Linked DNA regions of Homo sapiens: regions 1, 2, 3, 4, 5 and 7 are each linked to region 6. The links come from fine-mapping of genetic effects on gene expression. A gene starts in region 6. Each other region holds a variant in brackets. All regions are shown on one strand. Distances are from middle to middle.

Region 1 (4,066 bases), 160 kb after region 6:
TAAATTGAAATAGGTGAGCCAGGCCCCGCCTTTGGGGGTGGAGGAGGGAGAGGGCTGGGGTCCCTGGCTTCGAGAGGCTGCATGGTGGCAGGCCCAGCATGCCCAACTGATGAGCCTGCCATGCACACAACAGCCTTGTGGAATAGGCTTGTGTTGGGAAGCCTGGATAAAGGAGTTTCCAGACTGGCTGACTTAGCAGGCCAGGGCTGGATTCACTCTCCCCTCTCCCTGCCACTGCTACAGCTTTGTTTTAAGGAAAGTAGCGGCCCCCTCGATTTGCCTGCGGGTTGGAGATGGTGGCCAAACGCCCTGTACCTCCACCTCTGTGGATACCTGAGCTATTACTGGATATGTGAGAAGCAAGGGGGAGAAGGCACTAGGACAGGAAATTAGAAATAGGAAGACTTGGGGCTTCAGGGGGTTGGAGGCCTGACATCCGGTTTCACCTGAAGTGTGTTTGGGGTCTCCTGGTCGGCTGCTCCTCAGGCTGACACTGGAACTCTGTAAGTATGAAGACCTAGTAGAGGGCTTGGAAGGCTAGCAGGGGCCGCAAAGCAGGTAAATATCTCATTCTCAAGGGAGTGTGCTCTTTTGGGGAAGCCCTTCTGCTTCCTCTTGGCAGGAGGACCAGGAGCAGTTACCCTCCAGAGGCAGCACAGAGTAGGGGCTCAGACAGCACTGAGTCAGACTGCCTCACTCATATTCCACTCCAAGTTGCTTAACTTCTCTGTTTCTCAATTTCCTCAAGTGCAAAATGGGATAATAAAAATAATCTGGGGTCTGATGCAGTGCCACATGCACATGGCTTATGGCTGTGCTTGGTAGGTGATGATAACTCCATGTTAGCCACATAGCAGCTCTAGAAGGTCAGTTAGGCATAATGAGAACTCACTGGCGATCAGGTGGTCAAGCTGGGGTTTTCAGTGTGTGGACTCTGTTCTAAGAGGCTAGGGGGCCATCTTGATTCCATATCTCAGTGCCAGTTTGAAACTAATATAGGGGCCAGAGGAATGTTGTTTTCTAAGTTTTTTGTTGTTGTCGTTTTGTTTTGTTTTTGTAGCCATTGGCTACACCCTAGGCTGAGGGTCAGCAGTGCTGTCTCTGTGTAGGTAGTCAGTGCATCACAGGTGGAGTGTGGGTGTCTCCGTTTGGCCGTGCGTGGCTCGTCCCAGGTTTTGCACTTGATTTCATCTGTCACCCCCGGTGCTCCTCATTTGTGGGCACGTATTTTCTTTTTAGTTTCTTTTTTATTTTATTTTTTAAATTTAAGATTGTAAGCCCTCGGGTCGGGCGCGGTGGCTCACTCCTGTAATCCCAGCACTCTGGGAGGCCGAGGTGGGTGGATCACTTGAGGTCAGGAGTTTGAGACCAGCCTGGCCAATATGGCGAAACCCCATCTCTAGTAAAAATACAAAAATTAGCCGGGAGAGGTGGCACATACCTGTAGTCCCAGCTACTCGGGAGGCTGAGGCAGGAGAATCGCTTGAACCCGGGAGGTGGAGGTTGCAGTGAGCCGAGATCACACCACTGCACTCCAGCCTGGGTGACAGAGCGAGACTCTGTCTAAACAAACAAACAAACAAACAAACAAACAAACAAGATTGTAAGCCCTCAAAGGGCAGGATTTCTGTGTATTCAGCTGGCTCATGGGATTTCCAAGGAGGATTTGCTAAGGCAGTTTCTGGGTATCATGTTGCAGTGGGGGGAAGTGAGCACAGGACCAGGGGTCATGAGATCTGACACTGACCAGCTGAGGACCTGGGGCAGGGGGCTTCTCTCTGGCCTTGGTCTCTTCCTTGATGCTGTAAGGATTGGTTTAGATAATGTAAGGATGGAGAGGGGAGTTGGATGCCTCTCGTGTGCCCGTTGTGTTTTTTTAATTCTCTATCTCTGCGCTTATTGCAGTACTGGTTTTATGTGATTTCTTAGAAAATCATGTCTTTCCCACACAGCCAAGTGCTCACTCTGATAATCACGACAACACCTTCTTCTGAGAGGTGCTCTGGGCAACATCATGGGGGGCTGGGCAGCCTTCTTGGGTCCCTGCTTCACTGTCAAGGTGGTGCTGGCAGAAGGCAGAACAGCAGTAGCTGGCATGGTGGATACCAGGAAGCACCCTGGAGGTGTCCCTCCTTCCTTTCTCTTACGGGATATAACGAGAGCCCCTCCTTGCTGTGTCTGGCATTTCTCACTGGTGGAGGCCCTGGCTGCATAGTGTTTCCCAGCACCAGATTCTCCCCACTGTGTTTCTCCACACCGAGGCGCCGTTCCTCAGCCTGGCCTCCTAGGGTCTGTGGGAGGGCAGAGCCTCATCTTTGCTTTTTAAACACACAAGCAAGTGCTCCTC[A/G]TCTTGCCCTTCCTTCCTAACCCCACAGAACCGGGGTACATCCTACTAACCTTGGCTATTGTCACGCAGGTGTTAAGCCCCACCTACAAGCAGAGAAATGAAGACTTCAGAAAGCTCTTTAAGCAGCTTCCAGACACGGAGCGCCTCATTGTTGGTGAGTTGGGTGACCTGGGAGGGGATGGGAAGGAAGTCTGGGGAGCCCCCGGCATAGCACTCAGGGTGCTTCTCTCTAGAGGCCTCAAGCCAACCCAGGTAAGCAAGGGAACAGGGAGAGAGGCTGTCCAGACCCCTGGCCCCAGCTGTCAGGGCTCGAGGCTGAGTATCAGGCTTGTGGCAGCCTCAAGAGCCCAACCTGGAGTGAGTCACTGGCATTTTTATCTCTGCAGTTGGCCCAGTGGCAGAAGGGGTTAGCATAGTTGTGGACTGGGGAGGGAAGTTAGTTGAATTTTGTTGGTCTTTTCCACCTCTTGCTTCCTTGGCCCACTTTGCCTTCACATTTATTTATCTGCCTCTAGGCAGTTGCACATCACACCACCTTTATGCTCCTCATCATGAGATGGTAGGGACTTCCTTGGCTGCTAGTTCAAGTGTCTGGCACCCCTTGTCCGTGGTGGGCATTGGGCTCCCCCAGTGCTGGTGGGAGGGATGACATGCCTACTCTGCAGTGGTTTGCCGAAAATGCTTCCTGCCTCTGAGCTCCCCTACCTCCGCTCCTACCACAGATTACTCATGTGCACTCCAAAGAGACATTCTCCTTCAGGGCCGACTCTACCTCTCTGAAAATTGGATCTGCTTCTACAGCAACATCTTCCGCTGGGAAACTCTGGTAAAGACCTGGGCATGCTCCCTTGGGCTGTCTCCTTGGCTATGGCTGAGCAAGCTGCCCTCGCTTTCTTCCTTTTGCTGACTTCATGCTCTTCCCAAGCCTTTGCGTAATTAACAAAAGCATGCCTGAGTCTTGAAAGATATTCAATTCTAAGTCCCAATAATCAGGTCTCCTCTGCCATGTCTTCCCCTCCCTCCCTCCCCTTTGGGTGTGGAAGAGAGGACTGGGAACATTTGCTTTTGTCAAATGCAGGCAAATATTTGGCATGAGTGACTGCAGGAGGAGGCATAGTCAAGTAGAAAGGGCTTTGGCCTTGGGACTTTAAAGAACCGGCTTGCACAATTTCTGGGTTCTGTAACTAATCAGCGGTGTGATTTTAGGCTAGTCCTTTCTTTGCCTCTATTTCCTCATCTCGTATACTAAGGAAGAGAAAGATTAACTAGATGATTTTTTTTTTTTTTAAACAGAGTTTCACTCTTGTTGCCCAGGCTGGAGTACAATGGCAGAATCTTGGCTCCCTGCAACCTCCGCCCCTGCCCCCAGCCCCTGGGTTCAAGCGATTCTCCTGCCTCAGCCTCCCGAGTAGCTGGGATTACAGGCATGCGCCACCACGCCCGCTAATTTTGTATTTTTTAAGTAGAGACGGGGTTTCTCCATGTTGGTCAGGCTGGTCTTGAACTGCCGACCTCAGGTGATCCGCCCGCCTCCGCCTCCCAAAGTGCTGTGATTACAGATGTGAGCCCTGTGCCCAGCCTAACTAGATGATTTATATGGCCACATCCTGCACCAATATTCTGTGTTTCTGTAAGTGGCAAATAATGGCAGGACCTCTGCACATTTAGCAGACTGTATAGAAATTAGAAAGCTCTTTGCCCAAGAATCAAGATACTCAT
Region 2 (4,066 bases), 55 kb after region 6:
GGGTTAGAAGTCAGTGAGAAGGATTGCAGCTCAGGATAAGAAAGCACTCTTCCATGATAGAGCTGTACTAGCTTGGATTTTCTATCTGAGAACTGAGAACGAAGTGACTAACGGGTGGGGCATGTATACAGCGTGGATATGCTGAACAAAGGGATGATTCACGTTCCAGGTGGGACAGCAAGCGATTTCATCGTGCTTCTCAGGATGACACGTAATTTGAAACTGATGAACTGTTTATTTCCATTTAATATTTTCTTTTCTTTTTCTTTTTTTTTTTTTTTTTGAGATAGGGTCTCTGTCACCCAGGCTGAAGTGCAGTGGCGTGATCTCAACTCACTCCAACCTCTGCCTCTAGGGTTCAAGTGATTTTCCCACCTTAGCCTCCTGAATATCCAGGACTATTGGCGCCTGCCACCATACCTGGCTAATTTTTGTATATTTTTGTAGAGACAAGTTCTTGCCACATTTCCCTGGCTGCTCTCAACTCCTGAGGTCAAGTGACCCGCCTGCTTCAGCCCTGCAAAGTGTTGGGATTACAGGCATTAGCCACCACTGCATTTAATATCTTCTGACCACACTTGACTGTGGGTAACAAACCGCAGATAAGGGGGGACTGCTGTAATCTCTCCCCTTCATAGGAGTGTTCAAGCAAAAGCTGGGTGGTGTGTCAAAAGGGATTTCGTTCTGGTTGAGAGAGTGGAACCTCTCTAGTCCTTATTTCTTTAGATTATGAAGTCTTGTGAGTTCTGCCCTGGTTCTCAGTTTTATGCCCCCTGTTAATCAAAACAGTTCAGCTTATCAATTTAGACCGACGTATATGGAGACATGGCACTTCCAAGGAGCAAAGACTAATCATTCTTGTCAAGATGCTTAATCAGGTACGATCTGATCTGATGGCAGTTCTCTCAGTCCCTGGAGTACCCTCCACTCTCTGTGCAAAGCTTTCTAGATTGCAGCAATCATAATCTCAAAATTAGAAGAGGCCACAGAGGTCGCCCAGCACAGCCACCTTCCCTGTGCTGTGCACCAAACATCTCCAGAAGTATACTGTCCGTTTCTGAGCGTGATGTCTTTGCCTGCTCTTCTTCTACCAGTTCTATGATTGACAGTTCCTCAACTCACTTTATATTATCTCTGCTGCTTGGGGCATTCCTGGAAGAGATGAGTAGTGCTGAGATGCATATACCCTAATACATTTTCCCCAAGGACATAGCTGCTTGCTAACTAGAGAGAACTCTGCCTTTTGTTTGGTATTTGGGACTTTACACTGATATAAATTCTATTCTAATTTCTCCTCTCTAACCACTCACTCCTCCAACCACAGGAAATGTTACAAAGGTTCTCCCATCTAAACCTCTGCCCAGAAAAACTCTCTCGATTTCTTCCCGGGTCCTTTGTTCCCATCCTGGCCCACTCGCAGTCCCCTAAGCTCTTTATGGTGGATGGGGATGTTGTTTTGCATCAACTCGCTTTGGAGAGTATGAGGAACAGAGAGAATGTGGTCAGAAGTATGCTTCCTCTGGTGGTCCCTGTGACCGGCCCCCCCTCCAACCCCCA[A/G]AACCTCAGAAATTGGCTCTAGTATGTGTTCACTCACCATAGCCCTTCCGAAGAAAGTCTTTCTTCTCATCTTGGCTGCTGGGTTCCTTCTCCTGGAGAGAACAAGTTTCCGGAGCTCAAATTAGTCTCCCAGGCTCAGCTCAGAACTAACTTACGCTCTGCACCTAATTCTTCCTACCCAGTTAAGAGTCTCCAGGTGTTTAGGACGTTGATCTGTGATGTTCTGACCTGGGGTGAGATTGGAACCCTGGGGAGATGTGGGCAGTGGCGGGCATCTGGCCTGTGCTCCTCGTTCTGGCCCCCTCTGAGGGACAGTGCACCAAGCTGTGAATGGCGGCATTTCCTGCACTGGTGAGGCCTCCCTGCAGTCATCTTCTTTACTCTTCGTAATGCCCCTGGGTGGCAGATGGAGCTGGGTAGTATTGTCACTGACTGAAAACGGTCAAGGATGAGGTGGATATTATGGATTTTTTTTCTGTGGCTTCTTCTAATTTTCCAAACCATATCATCAATTGTAACATGAAAGATTGTTTCATAGAGCAGGCAAAAAAATTAGCATTGATTTCTTCTATTTTAAAGATTCAAATTAAAATCTTTCAGTACCAGATGCACTTTCAGCTGGTTTAATAAAACATTTTCTTTTCTTGCTTTTGTGTAAGGTTCAGAACGGTTATAGTATTCAGAGACTACGTAGCTACCTTACTCTACACAGCAGTGGGTGGAATACCTTAATACGGTGTTCAAACCTAAGGATTTCTGAGAAAGATTTTTTCCTTATTCACATTGACGCTCTGTCCTGAAGGAAAGACTTTGGAACCTTGACAGGAGTAGAGCGTAGGTTGAAGGACTGTGACATACATTTGCTGAGTGGGTGTGGCATCAGCAAGAAGGGTTGATTTTTATGAAAATGTGTTTATTAGGAAATGGAGATTGTCTCAGAGATAAGAATAATTCTTCCAGGTGTCCAGTAGAAAGCAAAATAGGTAACTTCCCCGAAGTGTGTGTGTATGGAATATAGGACATTAATTCATTCTTTTTTTTTTTTTTTTTTTGAGACAGAATCTTGCTCTGTTACCCAGGGTGGAATAGTGGCATGATCTTGGCTCACGGTAACCTCCACCTTCCAGGTTCAAGAGATTCTTCTGCCTCAGCCTCTCGAGTAGCTGGGACTACAGGTGTGTGCCACCATGCCTGGCTAACTTTTGTATTTTTTGGTAGAGATGGGGTTTCACCATGTTGGCCAGGCTGGTCTAGAACTCCTGACCTCAAGCAATCCACCTGCCTCTGTCTCCCAAAGTGTTGGGATTACAGGCGTGAGCCACTGCACCCAGCCTGATTGTGCATTTGTAAAGTCAATTTACTTAGTGTTACTCAACCCTCAACCTTAGTTTCCTCCTTTGTAAAAATTTGATGTCCATTGGATTTTCTTGTAAAGAATACATGAGAAAACATTCGTAAAGAGCCATTAAGTGGATGCTTAATAAATGGTAGCTGCTTGCACTCTGATTCTGGCTATCATAACATTTTACTCTCAGTTTCCTACCAGATCTTACACCCTTCTGTTCTTGACAAAGCAGAGACAAAGCCGGGCACCGTGGCTCACCCCTGCAATCCCAGCACTTGGGGAGGCCGACGTGGGTGGATTGCCTGAGCTCAGGAGTTTGAGACCAGCCTGAGAAACATGGCAAAAGCCCGTCTTTATCAAAACTACAAAAAATTAGCCGGGCATGGTGGCATGCGCCTGTGGTCCCAGCTACTTGGGAGGCTGAGGTACAAGATCCCTTGAGCATGGGAGGCGAAGGTTGTAATGAGCCTAGACTGTGCTACTGCAGTCCAGCCTGGGTGACAGAGTGAGACCCTGTCTCAAAAAAGAAAAAAAAAAAAAAACAAAAAGAAAAAGCAAAGGCAGAAAGAAAGTGTAGAATATTGAGCATCTGCAAATGTCACATATTTAGACTCCAGATAAATAGATTAAGTTGTGGTATTTCCCCTCAAGAAGCTGATTCTCTTATGGTGTGATATACTTACAAATAAACAAGTATAATATAATGTAATAAATGACTTAAGAAATTATGCGTAAGGTAATAAAACTGAAGAATTTTACAAGCTGGGTGTGGTGGCTCATGCCTGTAATCCCAGCAATCGGGGAAGCCGATGGGGGTGGATCCCTTTGAGGCCCGGAGTCTGAGACCAGCCGCCAACATGGCAAAACCCTGTCTCTACTAAAAATACAAAGATTAGCTGGGTGTGGTGGTGTGCGCCTGTAGTCCCAGCTACTCAGGAGGCTAAGGCTGGAGAATCACTTGAGTCCAGGAGGCAGAGAGTGCAGTGAGCTGAGATCGCACCACTGCACTCCACCCTGGATGACAGAGTGAGACTCTGTCTCAAAAGAAAATAAATAAAGAAGTTCACTAAGTGCTTACTCTGTGCTTAAACCTGTGTAATAAACCTTGCATACATTTTTAAATATATTCCTCTCAACAGCCTTATCAGGTACATGCCATTATCT
Region 3 (4,066 bases), 65 kb after region 6:
GGTTCTCAACAGATAATGGTAGAATAAGGAAGTCTCTGATCCTGTGATGTGGTGCAAGGACAAGATTCAGTAATGGCTGCGGGGAACTCAGGTTTTGGAGACCAAAATACCTTAGTTTAAATTCCAGCTCTGCCACATCCTGGCTGTGGTGCTTTTGCAAAAACATTTCATCCTCTCTGAATGTTTCCTTTCTGAAAAATGAAGATAATTGTACTTACTTTATGGAGCTTGTGGGGATTGAACTGAGATAAAATAAGAAAGGCACTTAGCACTGTGTCTGGACGTAGCACACAGTAAGTGGCAGCTTGTGTCACTGTCAGCAAATAGTAGGCCTGGGCTTAGCCTGCAAGGGGTGTGGAGAGTGAGTTTTGAGCAGGAGGTTTGCAAACTTATTAAGGGAAGCCACACATGAATCCATGAGAAGTAATGTTTGACTTCCCAGTTGCCAGGGGAAGCCAGTTATATAAACTCTGGTCCTCACTGTCCTGGTGAGAGACAGCTGCCTTGAGGGTGGGGTGAAAAGCCCAGAGTGGCAGTTGTGTGGACGGGCTTCCAGACCTACCCGCAGGCAGCCCACTCGAACTCCATGTGGAACGTGGGCCCAGAAGGTGTTCAGCTTGTTCCAGCTGATTAGGAAGAGGGTCCCATCTCAGAAGAGGCTCACTTTGATTAAATTCTGCAGTGGAAGTGTCCCTTTGTAAACAGCTTCAGTAGAGGCCCCAGATGTTCCTATTGTTCAGATCCCAGGAACAATGTTGTTAATAGTGGTGCTGTTGGTGGAGAGGAAGACCTGAGTTCTTCCTCCCTGTTAGTGACTCATCACTCGAACTGCTCTCAGCTCAGATTCCTCACCTGGGAGCTGTCACATCTCAGAGAGGCTGCCTCTTACCCCTTTGTCCCAGTAGGGTTTCTCTCCCTCACTTGCATCAAAATAAATGGCTTATTTTCCATTTTAGCATTAATCACATTATAATTGTATTTATTTGTTGACTTGATCATTGTCTGTCTCCCCAACTAGTCCCTAAATTGCATGAGAGCAGGGACCATCTTTGTTTTATTGTGTCCGCAACACTTAGCACAGTGCCTGGCACATAATCATACTTAACTACTTACTAAATGAGTAAATGAACCAATGAATAACCATATACGACTTTTTGTTAATGCTGACATTCTAGGATCATGGAATTTCGTGACTGTAGCCCAAATGGAGGGCAAAGACTGACCTTTACACATCTATTAACCTTTTTAAACTTTTCATGCTCATGGAAATGTTTTGATCTGTGACCACCTCTCACATGTTCCCCTTTCTCTGATCCACCTGCACATATGCTTAGGGGGTCACATGGTCTTGTGGAAGACAGCACTTAAGGCCTTTTTTTTTTTTTTTTAGGTCTGAGCTAAGCTCTGACTTTTGAGGGCAGGGCAAAGAAGCAAGTGAGTGCTCCTGTCTTGCTCCTGCTTCCCCAAGTTCCCAGCTTAGAGCTCCTCTTTAGCAGTCCTGGCTGCTTCTGTGGCTGTCAGCAGAACTGTCTGCAGGTGTAACCATCACCTGCTCTGTTTCTCCTACTCTAGCCCTTCTTCTTTGTGCCTGAGAAAGGGGGGTTGTTAATTATAGCTCAGCAAACTCCTCTTATCTTTGCTGATGCCATAGTTGGGATTTAGATTTGGACAACTGGCAGGATGGATGGTAATTTTTATTCCCCAGCTTCCCTACTTCCTGCTGGGAGAAATTCCATCCTCCTACCAGCCTCAGCGAAGAAGGAATGTGAGTGGGTGGCAACTC[G/A]GGGGCTCAAAACAGAGAGTCCGATCTTAGGCTTGTCCTGCTCTCTGCTGCATTCTTTGCCTCCCTTGTACTCCAGGGTTGAGATGAAGTCAGGGGATAAACTGCTGGGTTCTCTTTTCAATCACTCACTGATTAATCATGTAAGCTCGGGAGAGCTCTTTACTACTCCTAACTTGCTCTTCTAGGTATTGAGGAAGTCATTGTACCAGAAGTTGATGCTCCGGCTTGGATTCAAACACCTATCACTAAAATTGTTTGAGCACATACCATATGTATATATACATACACACACACACACACACACACACAGACACACATACACACACACATAAATTATGTGTGTACTTCTGTACTAAATATTTTATGTATACTGTAATATAATGAAACAAATTTTAATAAGATGGAATAAACATAAATATAAATACAAGCCCTAATATGCTTTTTAAAAAATTAAAAAAATTCCATGGATACATAGTAGGTGTATATGTTTATGGGTTACATGAGACACTTTAATACAGGGATGTAATAGTCACAGCATGGAAGATAGGGTGTCCATCCCCTCAAGCATGTATTCTTTGTGTTACAAACAATTCAGTTATACTCTTTTAGTTATTTTAAAATGTACAATGATTATTGACTATAATCACCCTGTTGTGCTATCAAATACTAGGTCGCATTTTTTCTATTTTTTCTGTACCCATTGATCAGCCCCACTTCCCCCCACTTTTCCACTACCCTTCTCAGCCTCTGGTAACCATTCTTCTACTCTCTTTCTCCATGAGTTCAATTGTTTTGCTTTTTAGTTCCCCCAAATAAGTGAAACCATGCGAAGTTTGTCTTTCTTCTTCTTTTTTTTTTTTTTGTCTTTTCTTGTTTTTTATTTTTTGTGCATCGGTTGTGTGTTTTTTTGATTTGAGGTCACTATGAGGCTTGCAAATACTATCTTATAACCCATTATTTTAAACTGATGACAGCTTAACACTGATTGCATAAACAAACTAACAAACAAAAACAAATAAAAACTCTACACTTTAATTTTGCTTTTTAGCTTTCTGTTGTTCTTTATGTCTTATTGTACTTTCTGCGTCTTGAAAAGTTGCCATAGATATTATTTTTGATTGGTTCATCATTTAGTCTTTCTATGGAAGATAAGAGTACATTATACAACACAATTACAGTGATATAATATTCTGTGTTTTTCTGTGTACTATTACATGTGAGTTTTCTACCTTTAGATGATTTCTTTTTGCTCATTAACATCCTTTTCTTTCAGATTAAAGAACTCCCTTCAGCATTTCTTATAGGACAGGTCTGGAGTTGATGAAATCCCTCAGCTTTTGTTTGTCTGGGAAGGTCTTTATTTCTCCCTTGTGCTTAAAGGTTACTTTCACCAGATGTACTATTCTAGGGTAAAAGGTTTTTTTTTTCCTTCGGCACTTTAAATATGTCATGCCACTTTTTCCTAGCTTGTCAGGTTTGCACTGAGAAGTTTGCTGCCAGATGTATTGGAGTTCAATTGTATGTTGTTTCTTTTCTCTCGCTGCTTTTAGGATCCTTTTTTAAAATCCTTGGCCTTTGGGAATTTGACTACTAAATGCCTAAGCTAGTCTTCTTTGGGTTAACTCTGCTTGGTGCTCTATAACCTTCTTGTACTTCAATATTGATATCTTTCTCTAGGTTTGAGAAGTTCTGATATCATCCCTTTGAATAAGCTTTCTACCCCTATCTCTTTCTGTAAGGCCAATAACTCTTAGATTTACCCTTTTGAGGCTGTTTTCTAGATCTCGTAGGCATGCTTCATTGTTTTTTATTCTTTTGTCGCCTCTAACTGTATTTTCATATTTCATATAGTCTGTCTTCTAGTTCACCAATTCTTCCTTCTGCTTGACCAGTTCTGCTATTAAGAGAGTCTGATGCATTCTTCAGCATGCTAGTTGCATTTTCCACCTCTAGAATTTCTGCTTAATTCATTTTAATAATTTCAATCTCTTTGTTAAATTTATCTCATAGAATTCTGAATTCCTTCTCTGTGCTATGTTAAATTTCTGAATTTCTTCAAAACAGCTATTTTGAATTCTCCGTCTGAAAAGTCACATATCTCTGTTTCTCCAGGACTGGTCCTTGGTGCCTTATTTAGTTTGTTTGACGAGGTCATGTTTTCCTAGATGTGGTGTTGATGCTTGTAGATGTTCTTTGGTGTCTGTGCATTGAAGAGTTAGGCATTTATTGTAGTCTTCACAGTCTTGGCTTGTTTGTGCTTATTCTTTTTGTGAAGGCTTTTCA
Region 4 (4,066 bases), 110 kb after region 6:
GGAAGAAGCATTGGGAGCAGAGCTTTGAAGAAAAGCTGGGACCACATAGGGTGGGTTTGTGGAATGAGGTCATTCTATGCGGAGAGAATGATGCCAGCAAGTAGGTTTTTGTTTTGTTTTGTTTTGTTTTTTAGACGGAATTTTGCTCTTGTTGCCCAGGGTGGAGTGCAATGGCATGATCTTGGCTCATTGCAACCTCCGCCTCCTGGGTTCAAGCAATTCTTCTGCTTCAGCCTCCCGAGTAGCTGGGATTACAGGTGCGTGCCACCATGCCCGGCTAATTTTTTGTATTTCCAGTAAAGACGGGGTTTCACCATGTTGCCCAGGCTGGTCTTGAACTCCTGACCTCAGGTGATCCACTCGCCTCAGCCTCCCAAAGTGCTGGGATTACAGGCATGAGCCACTGCGCCCAGCCTGGCGAGTAGTTTTTCTTTTTCTTTTTTTTTTTAAATTGAAACAGTGAAGTGAATTTGTTTCTTCCCTGTCTACCTCCTTTGCACTTGATTTCACTGTTTCCTCATTCTCAGCTTACTTTTTATACCTCTCGATTTTACTGCCGTTAAGAAATTGTCATTTTGCAGTGCTCGAGCTTCTGGGTGGGAAGACACCAGGGAGCAGGAAATAAACACATCTCAGAGAGCCTTCTGAGAGAACGCCAACCATAGCCTCTCTGCCAGCCTTCACTGCCAACCAAGGTAGAGGTGAAATGCTTGCTTTCTAAGATTTACCTGGAGCATGGTAGGCACTCCCCTATTTAACTGGATCAGTGAAAGAATAAAAATATACATGGACTTTCTGAGATGTGTAGCTGTTCAGGAAGCTGGTAAAGAACAGACCTGAAACCTCTGTGGCCAGGGAAGTTGGATAGGGGATGGACATTTGCTATGAAGGACATTGGTGTGGACACCTTGGGGGTGGCCATTCAACCCTCACTAAGTTGGCCAAAGGAGGAAACCCTGCTTATGGGCAGCTCCCACTGTCACATAACAGCAAGAAAAAGAAACCTTTGAAGTGGAGAGAGATACCTATAAACTCTGGATATGAATGCTGAGGAAACCAGAATAGAGAAGTCAGTGCAGTTGGCTGGTGTTAGCCAGAAACTTTTCTTGGAAGTCAAGTAACTGGGTAAAATACTTGCATTCCTAAGGTAGAAGGTCAAGAAATAGGCTTCTGCCTCCATATCTTTGATCCCATTTCGCAGAAGAATTCGCCATTTCCTCCACTGATGCCATCCTTTATCTCAGGGGTCAGCAAACTTCAGCCCGCTGCCTGTTTTTGTAATTTGTTCTAGGATGTAGTCACAGGCTTTCATTTACTTGTTGTCTGTGACTGCTCTTGCCCTATCACAACAGAGTTCAGTAGTTAGGACAGACTGTGTGGTCTGCAAAGCTTAAAGTATTTACTGTCCGGCCCTTTGCAGAAAAAGTTTGCCGACCTTGCTTTATATTGTTAGCAGTTGAATAATTCTGAGTTGTTTTTCCACAAGACTCATGGTGACTCATGGTTTGCACCAGCCCGTGCAATTTTCTTAATGAGGGCCTCCTTTGCTCATGGCATTATTTGCAAGATGATTTACTAGAACCAGGGGTGTGGTCTGGGAATTAGGCCTTTTGAGGAGAGATTGAACATCTGAGCTGCCTACAAGACACACATGGAGTGGCTAGTGCCCTAATAACAGACAGTATTTGTTTCTGATATTTATTTACTGCTCAATGTATGCCAATATTGTAGAGAAATCAAGGCTAAGAAGTTAGGAAAGGTACCCAAGGTCAAGTACCAGGATTTGAACCCAGTCTGCAGAATAAAAGCCCTTGCCCTAACCACCCCACTGCTTCCAACCAAACCCCTGACCACCTTTCCTTCCTAACTCTTTCTACTCTCTACTCTGTTCTCTTTGTGATTTCTGGGCCAATTGTCGGTTAGCCTTTGCTCTTTTAGTTCATATATGTCTCTCTTGGA[G/T]CATTCACTCCTTGGCCAGTTTTCTTTTTGACCCCACCCCTCCTCCTGTAGGTGGCTTTCCAACCTTGCTCCAACACCCATTTCTTGCTAACTCTCCCTGGGAGGAAAACTTGAGATGCACAGGAGGTCCTGGGTTCCCTCCACATCAGCCATTCCTGCCCTGTCACTGAGCATTGCCCACAGCGGCGGTTGTCATCCAGGTGCCCTGCCTTCTTCAGAAGCCAGCAGGTGCACAGAGAACCAGCTGGAAAGGGCATTGCCACCAGGGCCCCCGGGCCCCAAAGTGCCAAAAAGGCAGCCTCTGGATAGGCTGAGCTGGCATTTCTGACCTTTGTGTAGAGAGGACGTCCTTAAAGGGACAGCGAGCTCTTTTCTTTCCTGGTGGCTGACTGCCAGTTCAGATGCCAGGGGTTTGAAGAGGCCATTGTTCTGGCGATGGGAGATAGGGGCCAGACCGCCTAGTCTCTTTTTCTTTCCCTGTTACCAACTGCCTGTCTCCCTCTGATGTGCAGCGTGTCAAGTGTGGAAGGACAGTGGGCTGTCTTTGGTCACATACCCTCCCCTCCTCTGAAGGCAGCCTTGTCACCGAGGCTAAGGGACAGAATTGCCTCACAGCCACCAGCTCCCCTCCTCCAGGGCAGCCGCCCCGGTGCGAGAAAGAATGGTCTCTGCAGACTTCAGTGAGGTGCCCGCATCAGTTTCTGTGCCCCAAGTGGGTGGGGTGAAGTGGGAGGACTGCAGGCACCCTTTCTCCAGTGCCTTCCTTTCCTGCCCCACCCACCCTAGAATCGCCTTAGGTGCTTGTTAAAACTACAGATTCTGGGTTCCAATTCCAGAATTTCTGGGCCCCGGGAATCCGATTATCAATAAGCACACCACAGTTTGAGAACCACTGACTTAGTGATTCCCAAACCTGGCTAGTCATCAGAATCATGTGGGGACCTAGTCCATCAGAATATCTGCCTGGGGCCCATGAATTTGAGCAGGGTAGCTTCTCGTTAGTGGTCAAGAGCAGGTATCCTGGAGCCAGGCCCCTGGGTTTGAATCCTAGCCCCACCAGCTACTATCTGTACGCTCTTGGGTAAGTTTCTCAGCCAATCTCTGCCTCTTTTCTCACCTCTAAAATAGGCTTATGATAGTGCTCATTAAATAGAATTGTTATGAGAATTAAAGGAATTAATATTTATAAAGTTCTTACAACAGAACTGCCTCATTGATAAGAGTATTATGTAAGTTTTCATGAAATCTTTCTCTTTTTTTTTTGGTAAACTAACTGGTCATCTAAGTTGGAGATCACAATTTGAATAATCTCTTATCAGCAAGGTTGCCTGGCTAAGCTGGCTTTTCTGTGTGCTTTACTAAATGACCAGCAATTCTCTGAGCTGAGCCCAGGCTAGTCCTCAGTTCAGTCTGCGTGACTTGTTCTGCAAAGGCAGCCCTGTCATTTGTCCTCCCTGCCTTGTGGCTTACAGAGTGAGGAGAAAAATCCCTTCCTGGTTTCCACCACCAGGCAATGTGGACAGCATCGGCAAGTCTGTCCCAGGAGGGCCCAGAAGCCACATCTACAAGGCTCACTGACCTCTTTGGATGGAATTGAAGGAAAACAAGCTGCAGGCCAGGAATAGCTAGACATAAGTACAAGGTATTATAATTACTACCCACGCCCAAATTGGTCCCCTGAGTTAAATTTAACCCTCTGCACAGTCTTCTGACCTCAGGGAAGGAGGATGGACAGAAGTGTCTGTGGGGGATCGGGGTGGGTGTAGCCAGGAGTATGTGGGAGGCATTACCCTTGGGAGCTCTGTCAAGCCAAAATGGGCACCACGGTTCAGCACGCATCCAAGCTTTTATTATAACTTCCTGGTTTTGCTCAACTACTACTTTTCTGAAAATGATGCTGTTAGACTACATGTCTAGTATTCAGCTCAAGGTTTCTTTTTCTTCTTGTACTCTTTAATCTCTCTTTCTATTCACTACTTAGGAGACTTATTTGTCCAGCTGCTTATGAATATGGCATGAGGTATGTGGAGGTTGGGAGAGATGGCCAACCTGGGAGGACTGAGCTGCCCAGCTTCAATCTGCCCCTGTTCCCCAGTGAGGTCTGGGA
Region 5 (4,066 bases), 140 kb after region 6:
TTGCAATATCTGGGGCAGAAATGATTTTCTCTGAAGGCAAACAAGTTAACTCAAGTGATGAACACCGGAACACCAACTAACTATTCTGCTCTACTCAGGATTCTGAAAAATGCACGGGTAGCTGATCAGGGAGCTGGCTTGCTGACAAGGTCTGCCTTGTGCCTGCAGGACCACAGTGGGGATAAGGATGAGGAAGAAAGCCAAGCAAAGTGGTGTAGCGGCCACCGTGTCTGCAGTGGGCGTGGGGGGTGAGGGTGGGGGCAGGGATGCCGCAGAGAGTCACTGAAGAAAGCCTGAAGAGAGTCCTCATCCTCTTTTTCTACTTCCCTTTTCTCAAGGACATCAGCTAGACCTAACTATAGGAGGTAGGATCAAACCATAGGTAGCATGAGATACTGTGATCAGACTTCAGGGAGCACTGTTTGCTAGCAAGGTAACCAGGGGAGGAGAGCAATAATAGTCTGTGTTGCAGGTCTTAAAAAGAGGGGAAATGGGGAAATGAATGAATGACCTCCGGGTCCCCTGCCATGGCTTAAAGGTGGCTGGTGGGGGTCTTAGAAGACCTATTATGAATGAGAGCTGATGATTTCAGGAATCTCTAAAACATCAGCTTGAGCATGTTATACCTGGTGACTCATGGTTTCTGTCAATGTTCCATATATCCCATGCTATTTTATGCCTTTTCACCCTTGTTCATGCTGTCCGCCACCCCGAACATTCTCTTCTCTCCTACCGTGCCCTCCTTGAACCCCGTACCCTTCACCTGGCTAACTCCAACACATTTTCTGAATCTAGCTCAAGTGCCACATCCTCAAGGCAGCATTTCTTGTTTTCCTTTATTCTCTTCTATCATCCCACCTACTGATTATATTAACACGGGAAGAATAGGCCTCTAGCTCTTCCTGACTGGAAATGTCCCAAGCACACAGATCCTTTCTCATTCACCAAAATGAACTTGAATGCCTCACATATGCCAGGTGGTCAGGAAATATTTGTGGAACTGAAGAGCCAGATCCAAAGTCATATCACCTTGTCTAGGTACTTAACCCCCCTAGACTCAGGTTTCTTACATGTGAAGTTGAGAGCTGAATATACTAACTCTAAACTCTGGGAGGGAGTCTTAGTCCCATAGCCCATCTAACACCAGTCTTCCTTCCATCCCTACAGCATATGTAAGGTCTTTTTTATTTTTAGCTCTTAAATCCCAAGATTTTGAAATATAATGCAATCCTGTTATTAATAATAGTGGCAGGGTCAGATGAATGGCACATTATAAAGTTGGTTTGAAACTTTATGTTATGTTATGCATGTTAGGTGTTAGAAGATACTCAGGAATTGGTTTTGTTTGCTCAGCAGGACATCCAAATCCATGGGATAATGGGTTAACTGGTAAGAGTTTCAGGACTCTAGCAAGTTTAGTGCTGACTTTGCTGAGTTAGAACTAGAACTGCAAACATTTCTTCTTTTGTAGAGAAGGATCAGAGTGGAGGTAGAGCACCGGGTGGGGACATGTAAGGGGTATATGTGGGCTTAGTCTGGAAGTGTAGATGTCCATCAGGTAATTGGAGGGAGAGAGAGAGAGAGAGAGAGATTGCTGAGACATGGAAGAGTGAGTGTGTATGGCAAAAGGATCTGCAGACAGACCCCAATGGCTGAGGCAGAGGCGCAGGTAGGCCCCGATGGCTGGGGCAGAGGCGCAGGTAGGCCCCGATGGCTGGGGCAGGGGCGCAGGTAGGCCCCGATGGCTGGGGCAGGGGCACAGGTAGGCCCCGATGGCTGGGACAGGGGCGCAGGTAGACCCCGATGGCTGAGGCAGAGGCACAAAGAGGCCCCGATGGCTGGGGCAGGGGCGCAGGTAGACCCCGATAGCTGAGGCAGAGGCGCAGATAGGCCCCGATGGCTGGGGCAGAGGCCCAGGTAGGCCCCGATGGCTGGGGCAGAGGCGCAGGTAGGCCCCGATGGCTGGGGCAGGGGCGCAGGTAGGCCCCGATGGCTGGGGCAGGGGCGCAGGTAGGGCCCGATGGCTGGGGCAGGGGCGCAGGTAGGCCCTGATGGCTGGGGCAGGAGCTCAGTTAGACCCCGATGGCTGAGGCAGAGGTGCACTGGAAATGTAGCCAGTGTTGGGGTTTTCAGAGGTAGGCTGAGTGAGATAATTGAGGAACATATAGTCTAGAGTTCAGGTTTTATTCCACAGAGGGTGGGAAATTATAGGGGTCTTTAATCATCAAAAAGGATGAAAAAAATGCCAAATCCTCTTTTT[A/G]GAAAGTTCACTTTGACAGGAAAAGAGAGAATGGATTGAAGCCTGGAGGCAGGAAGTTGATTCCTTCTTTCTTTGTACTCACCCAGCTACCCACTGTCTTTCCATCTGTGCCTCTTTCTGTCCACCGGGCAAACAAACACAATTGAATGCCTGCTTCCGAAAATGAGCTTGACAATCAGATAGGCCTGTGTTTGAAAGTTTGAAATCTTGCCCTGCCTCCCATCCATCTGTGTGACTTTGGGTGAATTATTTAATCTGTCAAGAATCCAAATATATCACCTGAAAAATGGGACTAATAATACTGTTCTTTGCAACTTCATGGGTTTGTTGGGGGGATTAAACGAAATAATATTTAATAAGTACTCGGTGCTGCACCAGGAGCTCATGAACACTCAATAATGTTTAGTTATTTTTATGAATATTAGCAGGTTGTAGGTACAGATTTGGGAGCCATCTTGATATTCGGAATTGGTAAAGCCAAGGGTATGAAGACTGTCACTAGGATGGGATTCAGTTCAGCGGAAAACATGCCACTTACAGAGCCCTGCTGGGTCGTGTGGGGCGTGCAGAGGGCTGAGCCTCCAGGAGTTTGTAGGTCCTTCATACCAGGCTATGTGCTTTCAGTGCTTTAGTCAGCTCCAAGGTGGAGATTTAGAAAAGCTTTTTGGAGCAAGTGGGATTTGAAATGGGTCTTGAAGAATGAACAGAATTAAAAAAAAAAAAAAAAAGAAGAAAGAGCAGGACTCCAGCAGGGAGATGCAGAGGGCAAGGGCTCTTTAGGCTCAAGTAGTGCGTCGTATGGGAGTTTGGAGGCAGGAGAAAGAGCATGTATATTAAGGGAATTGGGGGAAAGTGTATAGGTGTGGAATATGCAAGCCCTTTAAGAGCATATAAGGAGAGAAAAAGCATAGAGGTGTCATTTACTTTTAGCAGAGAACTTTAGATTCCATTTTGAGGATTTGGGACTTTAATGTGGGAGCTACTAGAACACAGTAAGATGTTGGGCTTGTATTTAGAAAGATTAATGACACAGCTGTGAGTGAGTAGGAAGAGGAAAAGGAGGCAGAGAAGACCACTCAACTGGCTATTTATTGGAAGAGGGTGAGCAGAATTCCTTGAACCTGAACTGGGGCCCTGGGGAAGGAAGGGAAGGATGAGGTAAAAAGCTTTGTAGAAATAGAATTGGTGGAATTCAGTGACTCATTTTTTAGTGGAGTGAGATGGAAGAGAGGGGTCTGCAGCCTGAGAAACCTGGTAATGAAACTGCCATTGAGAATGGGCAGTCGTGGGAGGAGGTCTGGGAGGAAAGATGTCCAGCTCTGTGTTCAGTGTGGGGCACTCATGAGACATTGTCTGGAGGAAGCATCCACCTGGCAGCAGGTTGTTGGGTCAGGCTAGCGACTGTGACCAGGGCCGGAAGCAGGTAGAGGAGTCTCTGCCTGGTTGAAGTTAGAGAAAGCTGGAGACGGCCAGGGAGGTGACAGACTCACCTTTAGGGAAGGATTAATTGCAGGCTGGGTAGCAAGAGTTGAGACAGTAGTTGAGACCGGCAGAGGAGTAGAAGAGAGGTGCTTGTCATCAGGGAGAAGTTTCCAAGAACAGCACAGATGATCAACAGCCTTAAGAGCACAGAGAGATGGTATAAGTTGTTTATTGGCTGATGTGTTGAAGGCAGCATTTTAGGTGTGTAGATCTTTGCATGGTGTGTGTAGAGTGGGCTAAAGTGGGACTGCTGGGCGGTGAGGAGTTCTCATGCTTTGATCATTTCATGTGAGATTCGTGTGGTTTTGGATAGTTGGAGTCAGT
Region 6 (4,066 bases):
TCTATGTCAAGAGCCCGCCCAAAACTCAGGTTCCTTGAACTGGGAAGTTATCAGATCCCTTGCAAAACACTCGTCCTTGGAGGAAGTACAAGGCAGTGAACAAACTCTGTGGAACTTGGCTTAGCTCCCGATCCTGAAGTTTGGAGTTACAGTGCAATCTCCTCAGCATCCCTGGAGCCGGAAGAGGTGACCTTGGCAGGCCTGACACCTGATGGCAAGGGGTTTCTGCTTTCTGTGCTATGTCCAGGAGTTAAAGTAGAGTGAAACCAAATCACTCCTGAGAGGGCCAGTGGCTGGATTTCAGAAACGGGGGCTGACATTCCAGGGAGTCATTTATGGGAGGGCCTGGCCTTGGCTCTTCAGCCGCAGTATCTCTCTCCCTGAGGAAGAAATATTTCCCTTGGTTTCCCAGCCTCTCAAAAGTTGTGTAATGTCAGGATGCCTTGAGCTTTTCCATACTTGACAAGTGTCATTGCAGAGCTTGGTAGATCCATAGCCAGCTGTCATCCTTGATGTCTTGCTGAACTGCAGGGATGTATTTACTTGCAGTGAATTCTTGTGATCTTTAGGGATGTGAATTTTCCTCAGCTTCGGGACACTTGTGAAATGTGACTTTTGTCCTGGCACGGAAGCTGGGCATTGGCTCCCAGATGGAAACTGGACTCTGAGAGAGGCAGAAAAGAAGGGTGGATCAGATTGTGGACTTCATGGTATGTTCTTGGGTGCTTCTCATGATCTCTTTGAAAGTTACTGACCAGGCTGGGCATGGTGGCTCATGCCTGTAATCTCAGCACTTTGGGAGGCCAAGGTGGGCAGATCACTTGAGGCCAGGAGTTTGAGACCAGCCTGGGCAATATAGCAAGACCTCATATCGACAAAAAGAAATAAAACTTAGCTGCGTGTGGTGGTGCGCACCTGTACTCCCAGCTACTCAGGAGGCTCAGCTGGGAGGACAGCTTGAGCCCAGGAATTCAAGGTTGCGGTGAGCCATGACTGCACCACTGCACTCCAGCCTGGGCAACAGAGTGAGACTTTGTCTCTTAAAAACAAAACAAAACAAAACAGTTACTGACCCAAGAGACAAATGCATTGGGCTGGGGTTGAAGGAGGAGAATGGCTGCTACAGCCCTGCTCTAGGAGCTGGGCTGGGTTAGACTCAGTGCCCACAGAGAGCACCTAAATAGGATGGATCGGTTCTAGGGTTGATGATCTCTTAGGGCCTGGGTCTAGAGAGTGAGTGTGGTTCAGCACATCTTGGGATGCTACCAGGACTGAACCAGACTTCCTAGGTTCCATGACATGGGGACATACTGGATTCTGTGACTCAGTCCATGGCAGGCTGAAGCAGAACTGAATCAGCCCTCAGCAATGTAAGGGGGGGTACCCTCGACTCCCTGGGGCTCTGTTGGATGCATTGCTTTGTGGGTGCTCACCGACTCCTCATTTCATTCTTTGCTAGGGACGCGGCTATGGTACTGGCAGCTGGCTCATGTACAGGGTTCAGGCCCCATTTTCCTTACTGGTCCTGTGTCCTTTGTCTCTCAGACCCTGTTGTCTGTCTTTCCTTGGTATGTCATGTCTGGTATCCTCAGCTCACGCCGCCACGGGAGAACTGTCCTCTTCTCAGCTTGTCATTTTGGAAGCAGCCTCCAGCAACCTTGCTTTCCTCCTCTGACTATACTCCGGCCTGCAGTGCCACTACTCACGCCCCCAAATAATTTAAACTGCCTTTCTTAGGAGACAAGAGCTAGTTGAAAAGTCTCCTCATTTTCCTTCAACCCTGTATCATGGGTGGCCTGAGAGAGTGAGGACTGAATTCATTGACTCCCCTTTCTCTGCACCCCCCACCCCCAAGGAAATAGCCGAGTTCGACTAATGGGAGTTGCCTGGCCAATCGTTGCCCTGAGAAAGTTTGGTTTGTGATCCTATTTCAGTAGGCTGATTGGAGCAGCCTTTACTTGGAGGTCGAGTCCCTCCCCGAGGGAATCCGTGTACAGTTACACTAGCGGTCGCTGCCAGTGCTAGCCCATTCAGGATAGCCCCCCTCACCCCGCCCCCAGCCCCCGCTCCTCCTCCTCCTTTTTTGTTTTTATCCAGTGTCTCGCTTCCTCTCTCTCTCTCTCTCTCTGTCTCTCTCTCCCTTTCCCTCCTACCACTGCCTCTTCCTCCCGCTCTCTACCTCCCTGCAGCGCCAAGCCGGCTCCCCAACCTGGTCTGCTGAACGCAAACCGCTGAGAGTTTGCTGCACCGCCCCCTGGGGCCCCTGGCTGCCGAGTCCCGCTAAGGCAAAGACGCCAGCAAGCGAGGAAGCGCAGCGGAAGAAAAACAAGCGGGCGCGCGAGGGGAGCCCCAGGAGGGCTGCCGAGTGGCTGGCAGGCGGCTCCCGCCCCTCCCGGGTGGCCTCGCCGGCGGCTGACGGCCCGGAGGACGCGCGCTCCGAAAAGTTAGACTCCGGGCGGCGGCGCGCTACGCCGCGTCCCCTCGCGTCCCTTCCTCGCTGCGCTCCGGGAAAGGAACTTGTTCCTTCGGCCCCAGGATTGGGGAGTGTGCCGCGGGGCCGAGGGTGGGGAACAGCCAGAGGGAGACGCGAACCAGGCCGCTGGCGGAGGGCTCAGGGGGAGCGCAGAGGCGACGGCCCCCATGCCGGCGGCCAACATGATGGAGAACCGGCCGCTGCCCGCCCTGCAGGTGCCCGAGCCGCAGGGTGCGCCCGAGGGCAGCCCGGTCTGGTCCAGTTCGTCGACCCCCACGCTTCGCCGCCGGCGCTTCAAGATGCGCCGCATGAAGAACGTACAGGAGCAGAGCCTGGAGGCCGGGCTGGCCCGGGACCTGCCCGCCGTCTTGGCCCCCGGCAAGGAGTTCCTGCAGCTGCCGTCCATCGAGATCACGCCCTCCAGCGACGAGGACACCCCGTGGTCCAACTGCTCCACACCCAGCGCGTCCCCGCGCCGAAAACGCTTCCTCCTCCGCAAGTGGCTGAGGGTGAGGGAGCGGAAGGAGTGCAGTGAAAGCAGGTACGTCCCCGTTCCGCCCGTCTCCTTCCCTTCCCTCCCGTCCTCTCCAGAGCCGTCCAGGGCCCCGGGGCATTCTGGGGGAAACGTCCTGGGGGAGAACAGGAGCCCGTCACCAGAGGCGCTTCTGGAGGGCGCTGCGCCTGGTCCCAGGGATGGTGGCATTCAGCTTCCACGCGTGCCACCCGCTCCCCAACTCAGGGTGAGGGGCTTCATGTTGCACGACACGTTTACGTGGGGCTTTACGCTGCATTCCATCTCCCTTGATCCTCGCAGCGAAATAAATAATAAAAATAATAACAGCTAATAGTTATTGAGCCCTTACCATGTGCGGGCCACTATGTTGCGCACTTCATGTACCTCCAGATTTCATCCCTACGCAAACTCTCTGAGGTAGGTATTACTATGGCTCCCTTTCTACAGAAGGAGATAGTAAAAGGCCAGAGAACAGTTAAGTGGTTTATATTTCAGGACTCCGTTTCAATCTTATTTTATGTTTGGCCACACCGGATTGCCTTAACTGGCTCACTTGTGTGGAAGTGAAATATTGACATTGAGTGAGTCACATTTCCTACCATATCAGAGTCTTTAGACATCGATACCTACAAGACTGTGGTTTGTACCAGCTAGTTTTTTGCCTAGGTCAATGTGGCATCTGGGTAATGGGAGAAGGTTGAGCTTCCCTCACGTAGAGAATTGCTGCAGGGCGCCCTAGAGCAGCTCTACACAGCCCTGGTCAGGACTGCTGCTTCAGGAAGTTGTGTCTGAGCCAAGCCCCTTGCCTGGTGGAGGGCAGGGAGTCCTCACTTGTTCATCGGTACCACGAATCCTACATATTTACTTTGAGACTTTAGGGTCCTGTCTCTTAATGGATTTGTGTTCTTGTGCGGAGCAACTGAGTCATTGATCACTTTCCCTGGAATTCCTTCTCCAAATCTGTTCAATTACATTGATTTCAATTCAGTAAGTACTTACTGAATATTTCTGTGAGCTCAGTCTAGTAACAGCTAATAGTGGTGATGTTGAGGAGGGTGTGGGGGAAGGATAGGTAGAGT
Region 7 (4,066 bases), 42 kb after region 6:
AAAGCTAACCATTTCTTATTTAGAAGACAGTTACTACTTACAAAACTGCCGAGAGCAGCTCATATTTTTTTTCTTTTATTTATTTTAAAAATAGAGTTTCACCATGATGTCCAGGCTGGACTTAAACACCAAGGCTCAAGTGATAACCCCACCTTGGCCTCCCAAAATACTAGGATTACAGGCATGAGCAACCATGCCCAGCCAACTCACATTTTTCTTTCTTTCTTTCTTTTTTTTTTTTTTTTTTTTTGAGGCGGGGTCTCACTCTGTCACCCAGGCTGGAGTGCAGTGGCACGATCTCGGCTTACTGCAACCTCCACCTTTCGGATTCAAGCAATTCTCCTGCCTCAGCCTCCCAAGTAAGAGAACACAAGAGCTTGGAACACAAAAAGTAAACTAGGAAGGGCTACCACGTTAAGTGCTGGATATTAATTAACTTGCTTAATCCTCACAACAGGTCTGTAAAGTTGCTTACATTTTGACAGATAAAAGGATGGGAATGTAGAGAGAGGTTAAGAAATTTGCTCTGAGTTGCTAAGAAAACAAGTGGCCAAGCTAGAACTCAAATCCTGGGTTTGATCCATACCAGTGCTGTCCAATAAAGTTTTCTGCAGTGATGAAAATGCTCTCTATCTGTACTGTCCACAATGAAGCCACGAGCCACATATGGATGTTGAGTACTTGAAATACTGGTGTGACTAAGGAACTGCATTTTTAATTAATTTAAATTTATGTAGCCGCATGTGACGAGTGACCACATCGTTCAGTTCTGTGCTCTGCTATCTTTGGGAGTTATCAGCATATTCATAATAATTGAAGCCTTGAGTGTGATAAGATCTCACAAAGAGATGAATTGCAGTAGATTTTAACCTCATATGGGCCCAGGCATATTTGAGAATCTGATGAAGGCTGTAAACTTCTCTCAGGAACATATAGTATTATTGCACATTATATTGATAACAATTTCAGAGGTCCACAAAACTTAGGTTTCCCTGATATAAAACAGGAAGAAGCAGGAACCCAATAGAATGTAAACTCCTTAAGAGCAGAGACCTCATCTGTGTTGTTTACTGCTCTATACCCAGTATCTAGATTCTAGAACAATGCTTAGTACATAGTTGATGCTTGGTAATTTTAAATGAGTGTCTGAATGAGTCCCGGGAAACATTTTAGGACCAAATAGAAGAAGAGCCCAAGAAACTTCCCCAGAAAAAGAAGTGAAAGTAGGACAAAACGCAAGAAACAGGGGAGAGTAATGCCAGAGAATGCAAGAAATATGCGTTTCAAGAAGGAGAATAGTCATCAATGTCAGACCTGCCTGGCTGGTCAAAGATTAAGATTTAACTATTGTCGTTGGTCTTGGTGTAACAGAGGTCCCTGCTGATAAAACCAAGGAGAGGTAGGCTTGGGGTGCACATTGCAATAGATTAATTCATAAAGCAGTGGTGAAGAAGTAGGGGCATTGAGTATAACATCCAGTGAACCTCAAATCCTGGTTGCCCCCCAGAATCATTTTTAAGCTTTTTAAAAATACGTATACCTGGACAGGTTCATACTCCGACTTCATACATTTGGAGAGGGGCCAAGGAATCTGCATAGTAAAGCTCCTGAATTTATTATAATATTGTTTTAATGGAAGTTCAGCAATTACAAAGTAGTATGTATGTTCTTGCAATAAAATGGCCATCAAGAGAGGAAAACTAACGCTGGGTGTGGTGGCTCATGCCTATAATCCCAGCACTTTGGGAGGCCAATCCAGGTGGATCATTTGAGGCCAGGAGTTCAAGACAAGCCTGGCCAACATAGCCAGGCATGGTGGTGCGGGCCTGTCATCCCAGCTACTCAGGAGGCTAAGGTGGGAACTTGAACTCAGGAGGCAGAGGTTGCAGTGAGCCAAGATCATGCCACTGCACTCCAGCCTGGGCAATGGAGCAAGACTCTGTCTCAAAAAAAAAAAAAGAGAAAAAGAAAAAAGAAAGAAGTGGAGAGAGAGCCTTTTCTTTTGTTAAACACAGACATGGGCATGTTCAGAGGTGAACTATTTTATTTTTTTAGTGATATGGTTTCACCCTGTTGCCTGGGCTGGAGTGCAGTGGTGTGATAATAGTTCACTGTAACCTTGATCTCTTTGGCTCAAGCGTTCCTCCCACCTCGGCCTCCCCGGTGAAGCAGCGTTGTTGTCTGGGGTAATACCCAAGGTTCGTCATCTCATGCCAAGAAAATTAAGGACACAGACACACATGAGGAGTGAGTTTAGGAGTGAAGGTTTAA[T/C]AGGCGAAAGAAAGAGAAAGAACAACTCACTCTTGTGAGAGAGAGGGGCACCCAAATGGGAATTACGCCAGGTGCTGTGGAGTGCACCAGATTTTTATAGACAGGCTTGAGGAGGTGGTGTCTGATTTATATAGGGCTCACAGACTGGTTGGACCAGGTGTGACGTTTACATAGCCCAGGGGGAAGGCTGGCCACTCCACCCTAATCTTATTATCCAGATGGGCTTTCCACTTGGCTGGCACCATGTTGTCTGCTCCTTACCATACATGTGGCTGGCAAAGAGAAGGGAAGATGGAGCCACCATTTTGAACATGCCTAGTCCCAGGTAGCCTTTTCCTATTGGCACAACTGCTGGCATTCACCCATGGAAGCTTCCAGCTTGCTTGTCTATGTCTGCAGCTAAATTTTACAGGCTGCTCTTTGTTAGAAAAGAAAATGATTTGGGGGATGCTTTTCATTAACAGGAAAATCTTACGGAGGACTTCCTTACCCTCACTATCTGCCTAAATAATTTCTTCTTTTATTTTTTGAGACGAAGTCTCGCTCTTGTCCCCCAGGCTGGAGAGCAATGGTGCAATCTTGGCTCACTGCAACCTCTGCCTCCGGGTTCAAACAATTCTCCTGCCTCAGCCTCCCGAGTAGCTGGGATTACAGGAGTCTGCCACCATGCCTGGCTAAGTTTTGTATTTGTAGTAGAGACGGGGTTTCACCATGTTAGCCAGGCTGGTCTCGAACTCCTGACCTCAGGTGATCTGCCCACCTCGGCCTCCCAAAGTGCTGGGATTACAGGCGTGAGCCACCGTGCCCTGACAATTTCTTCTTAACTCCCATATCACCAGTAGCTAGGACTACAGGCACACACCACCACACCGTGCTAATTTTTGTTTTCATTTATTTTTTGTAGAGATGAAGTCTCACTGTATTACCCAGGCTGGTCTCAAAACTCCCGGGCTCCAGAGATCCTCCTTCCTCAACCTCCCAAAATGCTGGGATTACAGGTGTGACCCACCTCACCCAGTCCCAAGAACCATTAAATAGAGAAGTATTCATGAGTTGTAAGGAGCTAGGAAGATATTTAGCTGGATTTTGAATCCCTGAATCTTTGACCAGGGATTCTACCCACCTTGCTGCAGGTTCCCATGGGAGCTATTAAGCAGAAGTGAACCTTCTAACTCGGTAGACAAATTCTCAATATTCACCTCAAGTATGTTATTTCTAAGTGGTGTTTGAGGATATTGAGGGATGTTCTGTAAGGAGGTGGCAGTACCCCAGTCACATTTGTTTACTTATTTTCTATTATTAGACTTGTCCATACCTGCTTGCCAGGTGGCACACAGAAACTCCTCCTTTATTCTCTCCATCTTTGCTACCTGCCTTCTCTTCCCCCATACACCTTTCCTACTTAAGCTGAAATAGTAAATGCCAGAGTCATTTTATATGTAGAAATAATTTAGCATGAAAACCCAGCTCTCTCTTCTGTCAGTGGTGGTGAGGCCCTACTTTTCAGGCTAAGGGCCTTTTCTGTTATCTTTCTCCCATGCACTGGCTATTTCAAAATATTCTGACACACTAACTGAATACTCAGTGTAATAGATATCCACCATTTATGATACACTCACCAAGGGCCTGCTACTGCCCTAAACATGTTCTACAGATGATTTCTACCATTTCTAATCCCCACTGCAATGTTTTCTTTTTTTTAACTTTTAATTTTTTTTAAAGTAATGGCAATCTTGAATCCAACAGAACTGCAGTCTTTTAAGGCATGCATTATTACCCACATCTGACTGTTAGA

Which allele goes with the higher level. Positions count from the first base shown, and alleles are read on the strand shown. Sizes are in standard deviations (SD) of each study's normalised expression. Not every link is listed here.
For the expression in tibial nerve of the gene that starts at base 2,117 in region 6, A is the low allele of the variant in region 3 and G is the other (small effect, 0.12 SD a copy in GTEx).
With allele G in place of T in region 4, the expression in sun-exposed skin of the gene that starts at base 2,117 in region 6 is lower (small effect, 0.30 SD a copy in GTEx).
With allele T in place of C in region 7, the expression in whole blood of the gene that starts at base 2,117 in region 6 is lower (moderate effect, 0.53 SD a copy in Lepik 2017).

What was found. PIP is the estimated chance that this variant, and not a neighbour inherited with it, causes the effect. A credible set is the group of variants that fine-mapping cannot tell apart.
Region 1: its variant is the best candidate, but not a certain one, in a credible set for the expression of GRAMD1B in whole blood (INTERVAL, PIP 0.89).
Region 2: its variant is the best candidate, but not a certain one, in a credible set for the expression of GRAMD1B in whole blood (TOPMed, PIP 0.81).
Region 3: its variant is the best candidate, but not a certain one, in a credible set for the expression of GRAMD1B in tibial nerve (GTEx, PIP 0.60).
Region 4: its variant is the best candidate, but not a certain one, in a credible set for the expression of GRAMD1B in sun-exposed skin (GTEx, PIP 0.69).
Region 5: its variant is the best candidate, but not a certain one, in a credible set for the expression of GRAMD1B in cerebellum (GTEx, PIP 0.73).
Region 7: its variant is the best candidate, but not a certain one, in a credible set for the expression of GRAMD1B in whole blood (Lepik 2017, PIP 0.76).

The regions. Positions count from the first base shown.
Region 1 is chr11:123,591,666-123,595,731 of GRCh38, forward strand. GRAMD1B (GRAM domain containing 1B) reads left to right here. Exons shown (of 20, transcript NM_001387025.1): 5 at 2,417-2,501; 6 at 3,070-3,173. Among named protein-coding and RNA genes, the nearest start is that of SCN3B, 61 kb to the right of the region's middle. The variant A/G (reference allele first, on the strand shown) is at 2,348.
Region 2 is chr11:123,483,126-123,487,191 of GRCh38, forward strand. All of the region lies in intron 2 of GRAMD1B (GRAM domain containing 1B), which reads left to right. Among named protein-coding and RNA genes, the nearest start is that of GRAMD1B, 55 kb to the left of the region's middle. RefSeq lists an enhancer at 15-64. The variant A/G (reference allele first, on the strand shown) is at 1,558.
Region 3 is chr11:123,493,048-123,497,113 of GRCh38, forward strand. All of the region lies in intron 2 of GRAMD1B (GRAM domain containing 1B), which reads left to right. Among named protein-coding and RNA genes, the nearest start is that of GRAMD1B, 65 kb to the left of the region's middle. RefSeq lists enhancers at 418-934, 935-1,451. The variant G/A (reference allele first, on the strand shown) is at 1,784.
Region 4 is chr11:123,542,539-123,546,604 of GRCh38, forward strand. All of the region lies in intron 2 of GRAMD1B (GRAM domain containing 1B), which reads left to right. Among named protein-coding and RNA genes, the nearest start is that of SCN3B, 110 kb to the right of the region's middle. The variant G/T (reference allele first, on the strand shown) is at 1,960.
Region 5 is chr11:123,571,106-123,575,171 of GRCh38, forward strand. All of the region lies in intron 2 of GRAMD1B (GRAM domain containing 1B), which reads left to right. Among named protein-coding and RNA genes, the nearest start is that of SCN3B, 81 kb to the right of the region's middle. The variant A/G (reference allele first, on the strand shown) is at 2,261.
Region 6 is chr11:123,428,153-123,432,218 of GRCh38, forward strand. GRAMD1B (GRAM domain containing 1B) reads left to right here and starts at 2,117. Exons shown (of 20, transcript NM_001387025.1): 1 at 2,117-3,014. The coding sequence starts at 2,641. It overlaps LOC124902776 (a long non-coding RNA gene), which reads right to left and starts at 3,062. Exons shown (of 2, transcript XR_007062928.1): 1 at 2,795-3,062; 2 at 1-664. RefSeq lists silencers at 2,255-2,584, 2,695-2,744.
Region 7 is chr11:123,470,282-123,474,347 of GRCh38, forward strand. All of the region lies in intron 1 of GRAMD1B (GRAM domain containing 1B), which reads left to right. Among named protein-coding and RNA genes, the nearest start is that of GRAMD1B, 42 kb to the left of the region's middle. The variant T/C (reference allele first, on the strand shown) is at 2,272.